Homo sapiens: one gene and its partners. The protein of the gene in region 4 purifies or fractionates together with the protein of the main gene of each other region. This does not show direct contact. Each region holds a gene or a part of one and is shown on either strand. Other genes may lie near its edges.

Region 1 (4,176 bases), on a different chromosome or scaffold from region 4:
GGCCTCCCGAGTAGCTGGGACTACAGGCGCTAACCACCACGTCTGACTAATTTTTTTTTGTATTTTTAGTAGAGATGGGGTTTCACTGTGTTAGCCAGGATGGTCTGGATCTCCTGATCTCGTGATCCGCCCGTCTCGGCCTCTGAAAGTGCTGGGATTACAGGCATGAGCCACTGCGCCCAGCCAATTTTTTTTGTATTTTTAGTAGAGATGGGGTTTCAGCGTGTTAGCCAGGTTGGTCTCGAACTCCTGACCTCAAGTGATCTTCCCGCCTCAGCCTCCCAAAGTGCTGGGATTACAGGCGCAAGCCACCACGCTGGGCTTCATAGTTGGTTTTCAATAAATGTTTGTTGGTTGAATTAGATGAGAATCTTTATTAAGCTGAATTTTTGGTGTCTCTCATAGGCATCTAAAATATGTCACAGTTATGAGAAGGCGAAACATTTCATTCTCAACATCTTTTCTATATATAGTCATCATTGGTGTCCTCTGGGGATTGGCTCCAGGATAACTCCGTACCCCCACCCCATACCAAAATCTGAGGATGCTTAAGTTTCTTAAGTAAAATGGCATAGTGTTTGCATATAACCTATGCACATTCTGTTATATAGTTTAAATCAACTCTAGATTACTTAATAATACCTAATGCAATGCGTGTTCTGTAAATAGTTGTTATACTGTATTTAGGGAATAATGACCAAAAAGAAAGCCGGTACATGTTTAGTACATACGCAACTATCTTAGACCTAACTAGGTACATAGTACATGTCAGCAACAATATAACATTTTCTGTATTTTTTTTCTCCCCTGAAATGAATATTTTCAATTCCTGGTTGATTGAATCTGCAGATTAAACCTGCAGATATGGAGGGCCAACTGTACATGTGTTTTCTAATATTTTAAAAACAACATTCTGTAAACTTCCTTAGTTTTTTTAAAAAGGAAAGAATAGACAGAGTATTGGTAGAAACTTTAGATCATATAGGAAAAATTTTAGAATTGCTCTTTAATAGATAATGTCTAAGAAAAGGAATCCTGGAACCATTTCTAGAAGATTGTTTTATTTCTTGATATTTTCCTTTAATAAAATTAGTTCATTTTCATCCAGATAGGCCAGCTATTTCAAAAAAGATGAAATGTTTAAGACACTTAAAAAGGTGTACTCATTACCTACTGTCCAAACGGGGACATTGCTACTATAGTTGAATCCTTATGGAAGACATTCTCTGTCTTCTACCCTATCATTCCTTTTCTTTTCTGTATACTTTTACTATATATGCATTATATCCATAAGTATGCCTTGCACTTAAACTTTTTTTTTTTTTTTTGAGACAGAATCTCGCTCTGTCTCCCAGGCTGGAGTGCAGTGCTGCACTCTCGGCTCACTGCAAACTCCGCTTCCTGGGTTTGCGCCCACCACCACGCCTGGCTAATTTTTTGTATTTTTTCATAGAGATGGGGTTTCACCGTGTTAGCCAGGATGGTCTCGATCTGCTGACCTCATGATCCGCCTGCCTCGGCCTCCCAAAGTGCTGAGCGTGAGCCACCGCGCCCGGCCTAAACTTTATTCATTTTATATACACTGTGTTTACTTCTAATTTGCTTTTTTTGCTCAAGGTTTTGAAGACTTAATCTTTGTTGATTGTTTTTACAGGTTTATATACAGGTTTATAGATTATTGGTTTACTCTTACCTCCTCCCCACCAAGTTTTACCTCAGAGACATTTGAGCTTCAAAGATGTGTCAGGCATTGTGCTACCCACTGAGGTTACATAGGTAAACTTTTCTGAAAAATCAGTCAAATGGAAAGGTTCTTAATCACTTAGGGGAATATCTGTTAACTGTATTATCTACAGAGAATTCCAGAACCAGGGCAAGATGCTCTATAAAAATATCCCCCTTAAGCTGGGCATGGTGGCTCATGCTTGTAATGCCAGCACTTTGGGAGGCTGAGGCTGGAGGATTGTTTGTGACCAGGAGTTTGAGACCAACCTGGCCAACAAAGTGAGACCTCGTCTCTTAAAAAAAAAAAAAAAAAAAAAAAAGAAGAAGAAATAAAAATATTCCCTTTAACAGAAAGCTGGTTTATTTGATGTTTCCTTCTCTTTTTAAAATTTTTGTGGGTATATAGTAGGTGTATATATTTGTAGGTTACATGAGATATTTTGATACAAGCATGCAGTGTATAATAATCACATCAGGGGGGTAAATGGGGTATCCATCACCATAAACATTTGTATCGGGGAACCTGCCCCGATAGTCACGTAGGTTCTTTTCTATTTTCCCTAAGCATCAGCCAGTTTGAGAAATGAAGGGACAGAGTACAAAAGAGAGAAATTTTAAAGTTGGGCGTCCGGGGGAGACATCACATGTCGGTGGGTACCGTGATGCCCCACAAGCTGCAAAACCGGCAAGTTTTTATTAGGGACTTTCAAAAGGGGAGGGAGTGTACAAATAGGGTGTGGGTCACAAAGATCACGTACTTCACAAGGTAATAGAATATCACAAGGGAAATGGAGGCAGGGCGAGATCACAGGACCACAGGACCAGAGCAAAATTAAAATTGCTAATGAAGTTTCGGGCACCATTGTCATTGATAACATCTTATCAGGAGACAGGGTTTTGAGAGCAACCGGTCTGACCAAAATTTATTAGGTGGGAATTTCCTCTTCCTAATAAGCCTGGGAGCACTATGGGAGACTGGGGTTTATTTCACCCCTACAGTTTCGACCATAGAAGACGGCCATACCCAAGGGGGCCGTCTATAGACCCACCCCCAGGCGTGTATTCTCTTTCCCAGGGATGTTCCTTGCTGAGAAAAAGAATTCAGCGATATTTCTCCCATTTGCTTTTGAAAGAAGAGAAATATGGCTCTGTTCCGCCCGGCTCACCAGTGGTCAGAGTTTAAGGTTATCTCTCTTATTCCCTGAACAATTGCTGTTATCCTGTTCTTTTTCCAAGGTGCCCAGATTTCATATTGTTCAAACACACATGCTCTACAGTTTGTGCAGTTAACACAATTATCACAGGGTCCTGAGGTGACATACCTCCTCCTCAGCTGACAGGATTAAGAGATTAAAGACAGGCCTAGGAAATCACAAGGTATTGATTGGGGAAGTGATAAGTGTCCATGAAATCTTCACAATTTGTGTTTAGAGACTGCAGTAAAGACAGGCATAGGAAATTATAAAAGTATTAATTTGGAGAACTAATAAATGTCCATGAAATCTTCACAATCCACATTCTTCTGCCGTGGTTTCAGCCGGTCCCTCAGTTTGGGGTCCCTGACTTCCTGCAACACATTTGTCCTTTATGTTGCAAAAAATTAGATTCTTTTAGTTTTTTTTAAATGTACAATTAAATTGGTTTTTACTATAGTCACCCTATTGTGCTAGCAAATACTAGGTCTTATTCATTCTTTCTATTTTTTTTGTACCCATGGGTGATTACCTTTTTTTTTTTTTTTTTTTTTTTTTGAGATGGAGTCTTGCTCTGTCACCCAGGCTGGAGTGCAGTGGCGTGATCTTGAGTCACCACAGCTTCCGCCTCCTGGGTTCAAGCAATTCTCCTGCCTCAGCCTCCTGAGTAGCTGGGATTACAGGCGCACGCCACCATGCCCGGCTATTTTTTGTATTTTTAGTAGAGACGGGGTTTCATCATGTTGGCCAGGCTGGTCTCGAACTCCTGACCTCAAGTGATCCTTCCGCCTCGGCCTCCCAAAGTGGTAGGGTTACTGGTGTAAGCCACCATGCCCAGTCTGATGATTACTTTTTAATGGTGCCCATATTTTGATTTAGAAATTCAAAACTCTATTTGGAATGAGAATAATAATTTATAATTTCTTTTTAAAATAATACTTATGGGTCGATCATGGTGGCTCACGCCTGTAATCCCAGCACTTTGGGAGTCTGAAGTAGGCGGATCACGAGATCAAGAGATTGAGACCATCCTGGCCAACATGGTGAAACCCTGTCTCTACAAAAAATACAAAAATTAGCTGGGTGTGGTGGTGCGTGCCTGTAGTCCCAGCTACTCGGGAGGCTGAGGCAGGAGAATCACTTGAACCCAGGAGGTGGAGGTTGCAGTGAGCTGAGATCGCACCACTGCACTCCAGCCTGGCGACAGAGTGGTCTCAAAATAATAATAATAATATTAATAATAATAATTATGGAGCAG
Region 2 (4,176 bases), on a different chromosome or scaffold from region 4:
ACACCATTGACATTTCCAGACTTAACATTTGTGAGTCATCTTGAAAGTACCACTTCATAGAATCATTGTGAAGATTAATAAGGTTTCCAATTTGACTTTTATCATGAGACTGTGCTTAACCTCCCCACTTCCCTCCCTCTTCCCCTGCATACACTATCACTGCATCTCAGTTACTGCTGTTTGAGAATTTGGGGATTCCTGTAGATGTCACTTCCTGTCCATTATGAATGCCATATTTTCAGGAAAAACTGCCATCCATCATATAGTAAGATAAGTGAACAGAAGGAAGTATAGCCAAAGTGCTAAGGGACTTCAGAGAGGGAGAGGACCTCTCTGTTCACTTCCTCAGGGAGTGTGAGTTGTGGTTTCTCCAAAGATGAATTAAATTCAAATGATTTCGTATCAACGTGCTTTAAAAATATTTAGACAAATGGAAGGACAAAAGGAAGGGGGAGGAAATACTCAGTTTTTTTAAGGGGGAAAAATACGTGCTTTTAAATTTTAATTTAAAATTTTTTAACTTTATATTTGTATATTTCCAAGCTTGTTTTGATTTACTGTAGCCTGTCAGAAGAATAATAGAAACCAAGAATCATATTTTATACTGTTATCAGGTGCTATTGTTTATATATTTTACTTTCTCTGAAATCTAAGTACCTTTGTGGTTGTTTTTCTCCTGATTTTGCATTTTTACTGTTTTGTATAGATCCTTCTGTTTTACGAGGCCCTCTGCTAGGCCACACGGATGCAGTCTGGGGTTTGGCTTATAGTGCAGCACATCAGCGTTTGTTGTCCTGTTCAGCAGATGGCACTCTGCGTTTATGGAATACAACTGAGGTTGCTCCAGCACTAAGTGTATTTAATGATACTAAAGGTACATACTTTAAAAAATTATTTTGCTGAATCCTCTATAAAACAGTTTATTCTGAAAATAAGCAAGCAGATAAATGATTCCCTGAACTCTTTAAATTTAATTTGAAAGTTTTTGAAGCCACGAAAGTGTATTTGTTTGAATTTCCAACCTATATATAATTTTGTTTTGTTTTGTTTTGTTTTGTTTTGTTTTTTTTGAGACGGAGTATCACTCTGTTGCCCAGGCTGGAGTGCAGTGGCGCAATCTCGGCTCACTGCAACCTCCATCTCCCAGTTTCAAGCAATTCTCCTGCCTCAGCCTCCAGCACACACCACCACGCTCAGCTAATTTTTGTAGTTTTTTTAGTAGAGACAGGGTTTTGCTGTGTTGGCCAGGCTGGTCTGGAACTCCTGACCTCAAGTGATTCGCCTGCCTCAGCCTCCCGAAGTGCTGGGATTACAGGCATGAGCCACTGCACCCAGCCTATAATTTTTGAAAGCATAGTTTTTGGTGAAAGAACACACAGATTTTAGATTTTAAAAAATTAAGATATAATTTGTATGTAGTGAAAAACAGATATTAAGGATACATTTCAGTGAGTCTGATAGATGAGTACACCCATGTAACTCATACATCAATCAAGACATAGAATCCAGGTGTGGTGGCTCACACCTGTAATCCTAGCACTTTGGGAGGCTGAGGCAGGAGGATCACGAGAGGCCAGGAATTTGGGACCAGCTGGGCAACATAGCGAGGCCCTGTCTCTACATTTTCTTTAAAAAAAAAAAAGACTATATTTGCCCATTCTCGTACCACTATAAAGAAATACCTGAGACTGGGTAATTTGTTTAAAAAAAAAAAAGGTTTAATTGGTTGACGGTTCTGTACAGGAAGCATAGCAACTTTTCTTTGGCTTCTGGGGAGGCCTCAAGCAATTTACAATCATGGTGGAAGTCAAAGGGACAGGAGGCATGTTTTACATGGCCGGAGCAGGAGGAAGAAGGGGGTGGGACCTATTTTTAAACAACCAAATCTTGTGAGAACTCTATCACGAGAATAGCACCAAAGGGGAAAATCCACCCCATGATCCAATCACCTCCCGCCAGGCCGTATCTCCAATATTGGGGATTATGTTTGACATGAGACTTGAGTGAGGACACAGATCCAAACCGTATGAGAGATAGAACATTTCCTTTATCTCCCCAAAGTTCCTTCGTGTCTTTCCAAGTCAGTCCCCTCCTTTCCTTATTCCCAGCCAGAGGTACCCACTGTTGTGATTTCTTTCATCATAGATTAGTTTTATCTACTCAAACGTCATGTAAATGGAATAGTAAAGTATGTGTTCTTTGTATCTTGCTTTTATTCTTCATTATAATGTTTTGGAAATTCATTTGTGTTATATCAATTATTTCTTTCATTTTTATTTGATAGTATTTCATTAAGCCATAATTTGTCTATTCATTTATATCTTGATGGATATTTGGGTTGTCTCTAGTTTTTTGCTATTTTGAACAAGGCTGCTATGAACATTCATATATTTTCATTATAGGTGTGTAGAGACTTAGAATTGCTGGGCTTTCAGGTGGATGTTTATTTTACTTTATGTGAAGTCACTAAAAATTTTTCAAAAAAATTTTGTAGTTGTACCATTTTACACCTTTGACAGCAGTGTATGAGCATTCCAGTTGCTCTGCATCCTTACAAACATACAGTATTGTCAGTCTGTTTAACTTTAGCCATTCTGGTGGATGTGTAGTAGTATTTCATCATAGTTTATTTGCATTTCTTTGATGGCTAATTTTGATGAGCATTTCTTTTGTTTGCTTATTGGTTATTTGTGTATCTTCTTCTGCAGTATGCACATTTTTGAACTGTTACCTTGCTGTAGTTAGATTTTGAGCCAAATGAAAAAAATCAGATTATTATATTCACTTTATATGTTTCCTTCTATTTTTATGTTTATAAATAAGCTCTAAGTTTTCATGTATTCTAGATGGTAAATAAAAATACCTTCTGTATTCTTGAGCTATTATAACTTCTTTCCAGGCTTTGATGAGTTGTCTTCATATGGTATTTGCATGACTCTAACGATAAATAATAATTTTAAATTTTACTTTTTAATTTCTCTATTTTTGATGAGCTAACATCCCTAATAAGAGATGGGTTTTTTAAAATGAAGAATTCCCACTATGTCACTCTAAGCTTGAGGTTGGGCGGAAGCAGCAAAATTTGTAATTCATACATGTTTTCCATTTGCTCTCTAAATAAAGGCTTGCATTCCATGAATATATCAGTTGAGTAACAGGTAGAAGATCTGCTAAGCAGGTAAGGGAAATAAATAGACTAGGGCTAAAAGTTACAAAGAAATAATCTCCAATGAATAGTTATGAGCTAATTCTTATTCTAATGGTAAGCCTTGTTTACTTCTTAAGGAAACCATGCCATTTTTTGTTTTGCTCTATTTTAAGCAGATTGTCAAGTAGATGGTTTAATTGCCATTCTATTTCAATATGTTCTCTTTCAGAACTGGGAATCCCTGCCTCTGTGGATCTAGTGAGCAGTGACCCGAGCCATATGGTAGCATCATTCAGCAAGGGATATACAAGCATTTTTAACATGGAAACACAACAACGCATTCTCACTTTAGAATCCAATGTAGATACAAGTATGCATACCAATTTTAAATTGTCTGTGTTTATTTTTTTAACTTAATCAAAATTACGACTACTAGAGTCAGCTGTGAAAAATATTTGTCATTATAAAGCTTTCTGTCTCTTAACTTTCAGAACACAGTTACTTAGAAGGTTGTAATTATTTACCTTTTAAGAATTTGGGTTAAGTTTATGTACATTTATAACTATACTGTTTGAAATAGCATTTGAGCTGTTATGGGTCAAGTTTTATTTTATACTAAATGATTAATTTTCAATTCTATTTGAAGAAAGCCATATTTATTCTGAATAGGAAATTCTATTTTTCATTTCTCGTAATTTCATATTTTAAATCAACTTAATTTTATATTAATAGTATGATTTGGTACAGCTCAATACAGATCATGTTGTGGCACTCAGAATTCCAAACCTGAAGCTTCTTATTGGATGCAGGAAGTCAGGAAATAAGTGCTTTTTCAGGTTATGAAGAAGATATTACAGACTCTTTTTTGGTTTTTGGCTTTCTTAACCATTGCTTTCTGTCGTTAGCCATAATCTAGACAATCACAGTTTAGGTTGCAGTTGATGAAGAATACGACATACATATACTCTTGTTTTAATCTGAGAACTAGCTTTAAAAGTGATGATATGTTGTGTGTGTGCACATGCATG
Region 3 (4,176 bases), on a different chromosome or scaffold from region 4:
CCCCAGGAATTTCTGAGGCTAGCTAGGTTTGGTTTAATTTGTCTGTAAACTGGAAATTCCAAGAAACGTTAGATCTTTACCCCACCCCTCTTTCAATGAACAGATGCTGGTAGTGTTTAAATCGGCACCAATCTTAAAGCGGGCCCTCAAGGTCAAACAGGCCATGCTGCAACTTTATGTCCTAAAGCTACTAAAGTTACAGACCAAGTACCTGGGGCGCCAATGGAGGAAAAGCAACATGAAAACCATGTCAGCCATTTACCAGAAAGTGCGTCACCGCATGAACGATGACTGGGCTTACGGGAATGGTGAGTCTTCCCAAAGCTCTTGACTTCCTGGAGTTTCCTGGGGTTTAGACAAAACTAAATAAATATTTATCACTCCTCTTTTGGCATGAATTGTTACATATTTTAGATGAAAAAATATGTGATTATAGGTCAGGCGCTGATACACCAAACTTTAAGGTTATGCCTCAAATTCTAGTATGTACCCTTGTCCTATGTAAACTATGAAAATCCGTTTTATAAAACAAGTAAATTGAGAGATAATTAATTGCCTTTCCAAAACATTCTTTTAAATGACAGCTTTCTCCAAAAGATTTAAATTAAAACAACTTTTTATTATTACAAAGCAGTTAGAAAAAAAGATAGAAAATACAAGTAAACAAACATTTTACTATATTATATTTATGCCATATTTGTACTATGCAGAAATTGCCACCATTAACATCTTATTGTATATTCCTCCAGATCTTTTTCTATGCATATACATGCATATTTTATCAAAATGAAAGCAAGTTATGTATGCTATTTTGTAATTTTCTCTTTTAACATTATCTCTACCTTTTCATGTCAGTACATTTTCATTTCATCTAATAAAGTTCATATTCACAATTTTCGAGTTGTCCCAAAATGTTCTTCATAGCTATTTTTCCAAGTCAGAATCCAATCCAGGACCACAGGTTGCATCCAGTTGTTATATATATGTTAATTATTTTTGTTTTCTGTTTTTTGTTTGTTTGTTTTTTTGAGAGGGTCGCTCTGTCACCCAGGCTGGAAAGCAGTGACATGATAATGGCTCACTGCAGCCTCGACTTCCTGGGCTCAAGTGATCCTCCCAGCTGCCAAGTAGCTGGGACTACAGATGCATACCACCACTACACCCGGCTAATTTTTCAAATTTTTTTGTAGAGATGGAGTCTCTCCCTGTGTTGCCCAGGCTGGTCTTGAACTCCTGGGCTCAAGGGATCCTCCTGCCCTGGCCTCCCAAAGTGCTGGGATTACAGGTGTAAGCCACCGTGCTTGGCCTCTAAGCAGTCTCCCCACCTCCACCATTAATGCTAACTAATTGAAGAACTAGGCCAGTTGTCCTGCAAAATACTCACATTCTGGATTTGTCTGTTTTCTTCTTTGTGGTGTTATCTACTTTATTCGTCTATCTATGGTATTACCTGTAAACTTGAAGTTAAATCTAAAGGTTTGATGAATTCAATTTAAACCTTTTTGGCTGCAGTATGTCCTAGGTAATCTTGGGAACTGTACATTGCCTCACATCAGAAGGCAAGATATTTGGTTAAACTACCAGAACTTGTAAGATTGATCAGAGTTTGGAAAAATTTATTTTGGAGAGCTTTTTTATTGTTTTGTATTTGACCATTATTTCCATAATTGTATTTGAGAATTTTTGGTAATGACTTGTCTTTGCTGTGTTTGTAACCTGCTTGAATTTTAAAGGATGATGCAGTAAAGAGTTCAGATAACTCTACTTACTTACCTGGCAGGGAAAATACCATGATCATGAAGATGGTTTTCCCAGGACAAGTCTTATCCATTTTACTCCAGATATGCTGACCCCTGCTATTCCCCTAAATGTGGGAAACTCAACTGCATAATTTGTGGTGCTGAGGGACTGTCTTTTCACTAAAAAAGGGTTTAGAGAACTAAAGGAAACATATGATAGGCACATAACAAGCCAGGATGCAACTTCTGCTATAAGACATAAAGCACAATTATCTATTAAATTCTTGTAAATTTTTAAAACACAAAAATGTTTTATCCTGCAAATGGCACATCTGTTGTTGCTGCCATTATGAGCCCAAACTCACACTACACTTCCTTATGATAAACCCTTGCATGTAGAACATGAGAGATCTGGGAGATTTGTATCTTCAGCCCTGAAATAAGTGTCTAAGTGAATAGAAGCGAAACAGATTATCTGTTTTCTGTTTTTACCTTCATTGAAGCCGTCACCTCATCATCTTAAAATAAGCTGACATATAGATTTATCATGTGCTGGAGGAGATTCCAGGGAATCAGGAAAATCTTCGGTAATTGGTCCATTCTGATTCTCCATGTTATACCCCTCTTGCCCCTTCCTATTCCTTGAAAGCTGGCTATTCCATTCAGATGGGACACTCATCCCCTAAGGAAAGCTGCATAAAAGGAATTTAATTACCCTTTTGGGAAACATAATACATATAACTAGTAATACATAAAGCTAATAAGAAAGTGAAATAATAAAAAGGAAATACAATAGAAGAAGTCCACCTCCCTCTGGGCCCTCATTTCCTTTCTCATAGGTAACCACTATTACCAGTTTCTAGACTACCCTTCCAAAGATAATTTCTGCATATACAAGCTTATGCATGTGGGCATATGTGTATTTTTTAAACCTAAGTGTCAGCATGCTGTATACTAACTTCATACATTGCTCTTTACAAAAAAAAAAAAAAAAAGAATTTCTGAGCAGTTCCATTTTTGGAATCCCATAGACCATGCTCTGTGATAAGAGGAGCAGTGTCTTGCATTGTATGTCTTCTTCTTCCTCTCTTTCCAACACAGACATCGATGCCAGACCATGGGACTTCCAAGCAGAAGAATGTACCTTGAGGGCCAACATTGAGGCTTTTAACAGCCGTCGCTATGACAGACCCCAGGACTCTGAGTTTTCACCTGTGGATAACTGCTTGCAGAGCGTACTGGGGCAGAGGTTGGATCTGCCTGAAGATTTCCACTATTCATATGAGCTCTGGCTCGAGAGAGAGGTGTTTTCACAGCCCATCTGTTGGGAGGAGCTGCTCCAGAATCACTGACTAAGTTCTTGTCAACAAGCATCAATAGATAGAGGTCAGCTCCAATAAACTGTGCTCTGCCTACCCTGTCCATACAGGCGCTGTTACCAGTTCAGGGCTCTTCTGGGGGCTCTTGGGCCTAAAGATGGTGCAAGGGTGGGATCCTGAATCACAATAAAATGATCAACTTGCCCTGGGGTCAGTTGGGTGCCCAGTTGGCCTTGGAAATCTTTTGGTGGATCAATTCTAGACAAGCTCTTTGGTAGGACCTTTTCCTGCTTTAGTCTTGGCTACAACCAGGCTAGACTTTGCTGGCTCTAAAAGAGGAAATTTGTTATGGCATTTGACCCATGGCATTCATCACAGATAGTGGGAGGTACAAGTCATAAAATAGGGAGAAAGTTTTCTTCTTGCTCACACTGGATTCCTAGGACTTATCAGAGATTTGGAAAAACCAACTTTGAAATTAAGTTTGCATTTTAAATTTCAAATTTGGAAGCCTCTTTCTGAAATCATTAGCTCTAAGATTATTTTAGAGCACCTGCACCTTCTTTGTGAAGGATGATGATTTACTATTCCCTCAATACTGCATGTTATCGAAAAGTGTGTTGTGTAAAGTGTTTTTTTCCTCATTCTGTAAGAGATCTATATTCAATGTGAAAATTATTTCCTTGTGTACTCTGTATAGGGCATGGAATGCTCTGCCATTTTTAAAGAGCCACAACCAATATGAAATAATTAGGTCCTCTCTAAGGATGTTTCATGTTTTTCTTAAATGACTCCAGTCTTCAAATGGCTGAGCATACTGCAGAAAATTATCCTTTTCATCTAATTCATTTTTTAAATGACAAGTTAACTACAGGAGGCTTTATTTATTCAGATGGTATGTCCACTTGTGGTCGTGATCAATATATTTTTCTAATTGAAAAGTAAAAGCATCACAGCTTACCATTTTTCTTTTTCTGCAGTGTTGATTAATGATTTTTTTCCCGTTTATTGCTAGCAGTTTCAAAGTGTCATGTGGAGATTTAGCAATACTGTCTCTACTTAAAAGTATTGCACATTTCATTGAAAATGTGAGAGTTGATATACCAGCCTCTTTATAT
Region 4 (3,500 bases):
AAGTGATTAAGAGCTTACACGCACAGGCTGGGGAGTCCAATTGCCTGGACTCATCCCAGACTTGCCACCTGCTTGCTGGGGGCTGGGGGGAGATGAACAATTCCCTCAGCCTCCTTATCTGTAAAATATATAGTATATGTGTATCTGCCTTATGAAACTGTTAGTGCCTAACATACAGAAAGCATTCATTAAATATTAGCTACTTTATTGTTTATTATGATTGTGTGATAGAAAAAAGTAATAGACTGGGGCTCAGGGGACTTAAGTTCTGGTCCTTGCTTTACTTCTTTTTCCACCTATGTGACTCTTGTACAGAACTGAGGTGCGGTCATAGAAAGGGACCCAGAAAGTAATCAAAAATCCTTAAGTCAAGATCTTAAAAGTAAGCCAGGCAACGATCCTGAGTGTCAGTTCTCTTGAGACAGGAACACAGCCACTGCAAGGTGTAGAAAGTACCCACTACCAAGGGTTGAATAATCACAGTTCCATACTCAATTCTACCTGCGGAAGGTTTTGTAACTTGAGCTGAGTGACTTCTCATTCTAGTACTATCTTCTTTAAAATGATGAGGTGGCACTCATCATTTGAAAGTACTGTCTTTTAAAGTACTTTTAAAGTACTGTCTTTTAAAGTACTTTTAAAGTACTGTCTTTTAAAGTACTTTTAAAGTACTGTCTTTAAAATGATTGCGATAACAGGTTCTCAATATTGGATGCGAATTAAAATCACACAAAAGCTTAGAAAATAGACCAATACTTGGGCACCCTCTCAGGCCAATTTAAATCAGAACCTCTGGGGGCATAGCCCAGGCATCTGCATTTTTAAAGCACCCCAGGTGACTTTGATGCACAGAGAGTGTTGAGAGCCACAGTACTAGATAATCAGATGGTTTCAAGTGAGGTCAGAGTCTAGAGGTTTCCACTCCTTTTGGTTTCCTGTAAGGTATAGCTGTCCCCAGGACCAAAGCCATGTAATCATTGACATTGTGGTACTCAAGGCCCTGTGCCTGCTCACAATCAGACTAGGGGCAGATGTGCAAAGAGAACTAGGAAATCTTACAGAAGTCTTAGATAATTCTTGAATGAATATGATAAGCTGTTAATATCTTAAAAATTAGCTAAAGACTAATGTGGAAATTATCGCTGTTGTGTACCAAAAGAAATTTAGAATAATTGAATGAGGAAAAAAATACTTCTAGAGGCCAACCAGTCAAACTCTTTGTCTCCAAAGAAGAGAACACAAATACTCTTTTTCTGGGTGGGTGAAAAAAAAATTACAGTTCTTTTTCTCCTTTGACACTATTACACCTTTTTACATAAAGACAGGAGAAGAAAAAAGGAAAACTGAGTTTATTGTAAAGAAATCAAGAGATGTTATGTCAAGAAAACAGACAGCCTTCGTGAAATGTAACACATCTCTGCCTTTACTTCTTTTTCATTGACTTGGATTAAACAGGTCTGTATCACACAGCAAACAGTATATTTGCTTCAGGAAGATGTTTAGCCTGTCAGGTGAGTAGCAGTACAAGTCCTGTGCTATTAACCAATAATGAATGTAGTGTGTTTGGGGATGGGGAGTTGGGGTGTGCTAGTATAGTTGTGACAAGTTACTGTTTCAATTTATTAGAATAGAATTTCTCAGAAAGTAGAGATTTATTCTGTTATATTCCATCCCATATAAAACATTCACCTTCCTGGGATATTCAATCCCACTACCTGGGATATGTGATACCCTGGAAAAGTAGTCTTTCTGGCCACTGGCATAAGAGAAAGCAAAGCATTATCTGCTCCATCGAAGTTTTATTAGAATCGCTCTCCTTTTACTTCAAACAATCTGAAAGTTAAATGCCAGAAATGCAAATAGAAACTCAAAAGTTTCAATTATTTCCAAATAGTCAGACATTTGGACATCATGCAGGCAAATAAAGATAAAAGAATTAAATAAAATATCCAATAAAATATGCCTCTGATCCATAGTAGCAAAATGGCTGAAAAGCGTCAGGCAATTTTTCTTAAACTACAGCAAGCTCTCTGTTTTATTTTATTTTTTTGAAGGAACATCATGCTGCCAGAATAGCAACTCACTACCAAAACAAAGTCATTTGGAACCAATAACAAGCCTTTATGTGGAGCACCTTCTACCGCCTTCCTCACTGCCTTCTGACCAAAACACACACACACACACACACACACACACATACACACACACACACACACACACTCCACCAAAGGTTTCTTGAAGAAGTATTGCTACCAACAACGGGGATAAGTATTTCATAGAACTCCCTCTTGAACCCACTTCACAAACTAAATGTTTATGACCAAGGTAGAGACTGGCAGCACATTCAAAGTTTACAATATAAGGTGGGGCTCTGAGTTGTCAATAGGAGCAACAGCAGACAAAAGCCCCAACAGTGTCAAAGGAGGTGGTACAAAATCAAATGCTCCATGGCATCCTCTTCTTGGGAATCAACCCAGCGTGTAGAAACCAAGAACCACATTGCCCCATCAACAACTGGAAGAATCACTTCTGCATCTCAGTGCCCCAGGCCTAGCTCATCCAGGGTGGCCCAACTCTACTGGCCATTGAAGCTTCTGATTCCACTTTGGGATCCTGGAAAAGAGCCTCTGTTAGCCTTCTGACCCTAAATCTCTTTATTCTTTGCACTTTGTGAATCTTTTAATACTATAGGGGCAGCTGTTACCTTGCAGTGTCACATTCTACATGTTTCAGTAAAACATCTCATAGTCATCTAGGTGGAGGTGTTCCATAAACAACTGCCTGAATTTTAAAAAGTGGTTGAAACTATCGAATAGATAAGGTCAAATTGCCTGGATTTGGATTTTAAATCTACTACTAGGTAAGTTATTTAACATTTATAACCTCATTTTCCTAATCTGTAAAATAGTGATAAAAATAGTACCTCATAGGGTTGTTACGAGAAGCAAATAAAATCATCCATGTAAAATGCTTGGCACAATTCCTGGCACATAGTAATATTCTCAAGTATATGCTAGTTATTCCTATCATTTTATATAGTAAATGTACTGCATATGTTGTATATTATATAGATAATATATATTACATGTAGCCATTATTATTATTATTACTTATGGAATGAGCAGAATGTAGAAGTTGGGGATGTCTTATCAAAAGTTGACGGGCCCTGAGAAGTGAACTCGACCAATGCAGCTGACTTCCTTAAAGACCAGAACGAACAACAGGCTATGGCCAAACCAGTTGGTTTGGTGTATTCAAACCAGAAGATGATATCTATCAACACAGCGAGTGAAAGTTAAGCTTATATGTAAGGCCACTCCCTGATCCAAATACCAGGCTGCTCTTCAAGCATGTGTCCCTTACTAAACAGTTAATGAAACACAAAGAGCTTTGAATACCTCCAGTGTCACATTTCAAGACTTATAGAATAATTAGGAAAAATCTGAGCTGGCAAAACTCTTCCTGGCTTGCCCTGATGAGCAGACCATCTTTGTTTTCCA

The links. The genes of interacting proteins can lie anywhere in the genome.
Region 1: the proteins of FILIP1 (region 4) and MOB4 purify together in Homo sapiens (affinity purification with mass spectrometry; one large-scale study listed by BioGRID and IntAct). This does not show direct contact.
Region 2: the proteins of FILIP1 (region 4) and STRN purify together in Homo sapiens (affinity purification with mass spectrometry; one large-scale study listed by BioGRID and IntAct). This does not show direct contact.
Region 3: the proteins of FILIP1 (region 4) and STRIP2 purify together in Homo sapiens (affinity purification with mass spectrometry; one large-scale study listed by BioGRID and IntAct). This does not show direct contact.

What each region holds. Positions count from the first base shown.
Region 1 is NC_000002.12:197,518,873-197,523,048, forward strand, and holds part of MOB4 (MOB-like protein phocein), read left to right. Parts: intron 1-4,176.
Region 2 is NC_000002.12:36,854,554-36,858,729, reverse strand, and holds part of STRN (striatin), read left to right. Parts: intron 1-706; coding exon 707-874; intron 875-3,377; coding exon 3,378-3,518; intron 3,519-4,176. UniProt on the Homo sapiens protein: Calmodulin-binding scaffolding protein which is the center of the striatin-interacting phosphatase and kinase (STRIPAK) complexes.
Region 3 is NC_000007.14:129,482,739-129,486,914, forward strand, and holds part of STRIP2 (striatin-interacting protein 2), read left to right. Parts: intron 1-103; coding exon 104-308; coding exon of another isoform or gene 309-331; exon of another isoform or gene 332-893; intron 894-2,840; coding exon 2,841-3,091; 3' UTR 3,092-4,176. UniProt on the Homo sapiens protein: Plays a role in the regulation of cell morphology and cytoskeletal organization. Required in the control of cell shape. Calmodulin-binding scaffolding protein which is the center of the striatin-interacting phosphatase and kinase (STRIPAK) complexes.
Region 4 is NC_000006.12:75,483,801-75,487,300, forward strand, and holds part of FILIP1 (filamin-A-interacting protein 1), read right to left. Parts: intron 1-3,500. UniProt on the Homo sapiens protein: By acting through a filamin-A/F-actin axis, it controls the start of neocortical cell migration from the ventricular zone. May be able to induce the degradation of filamin-A.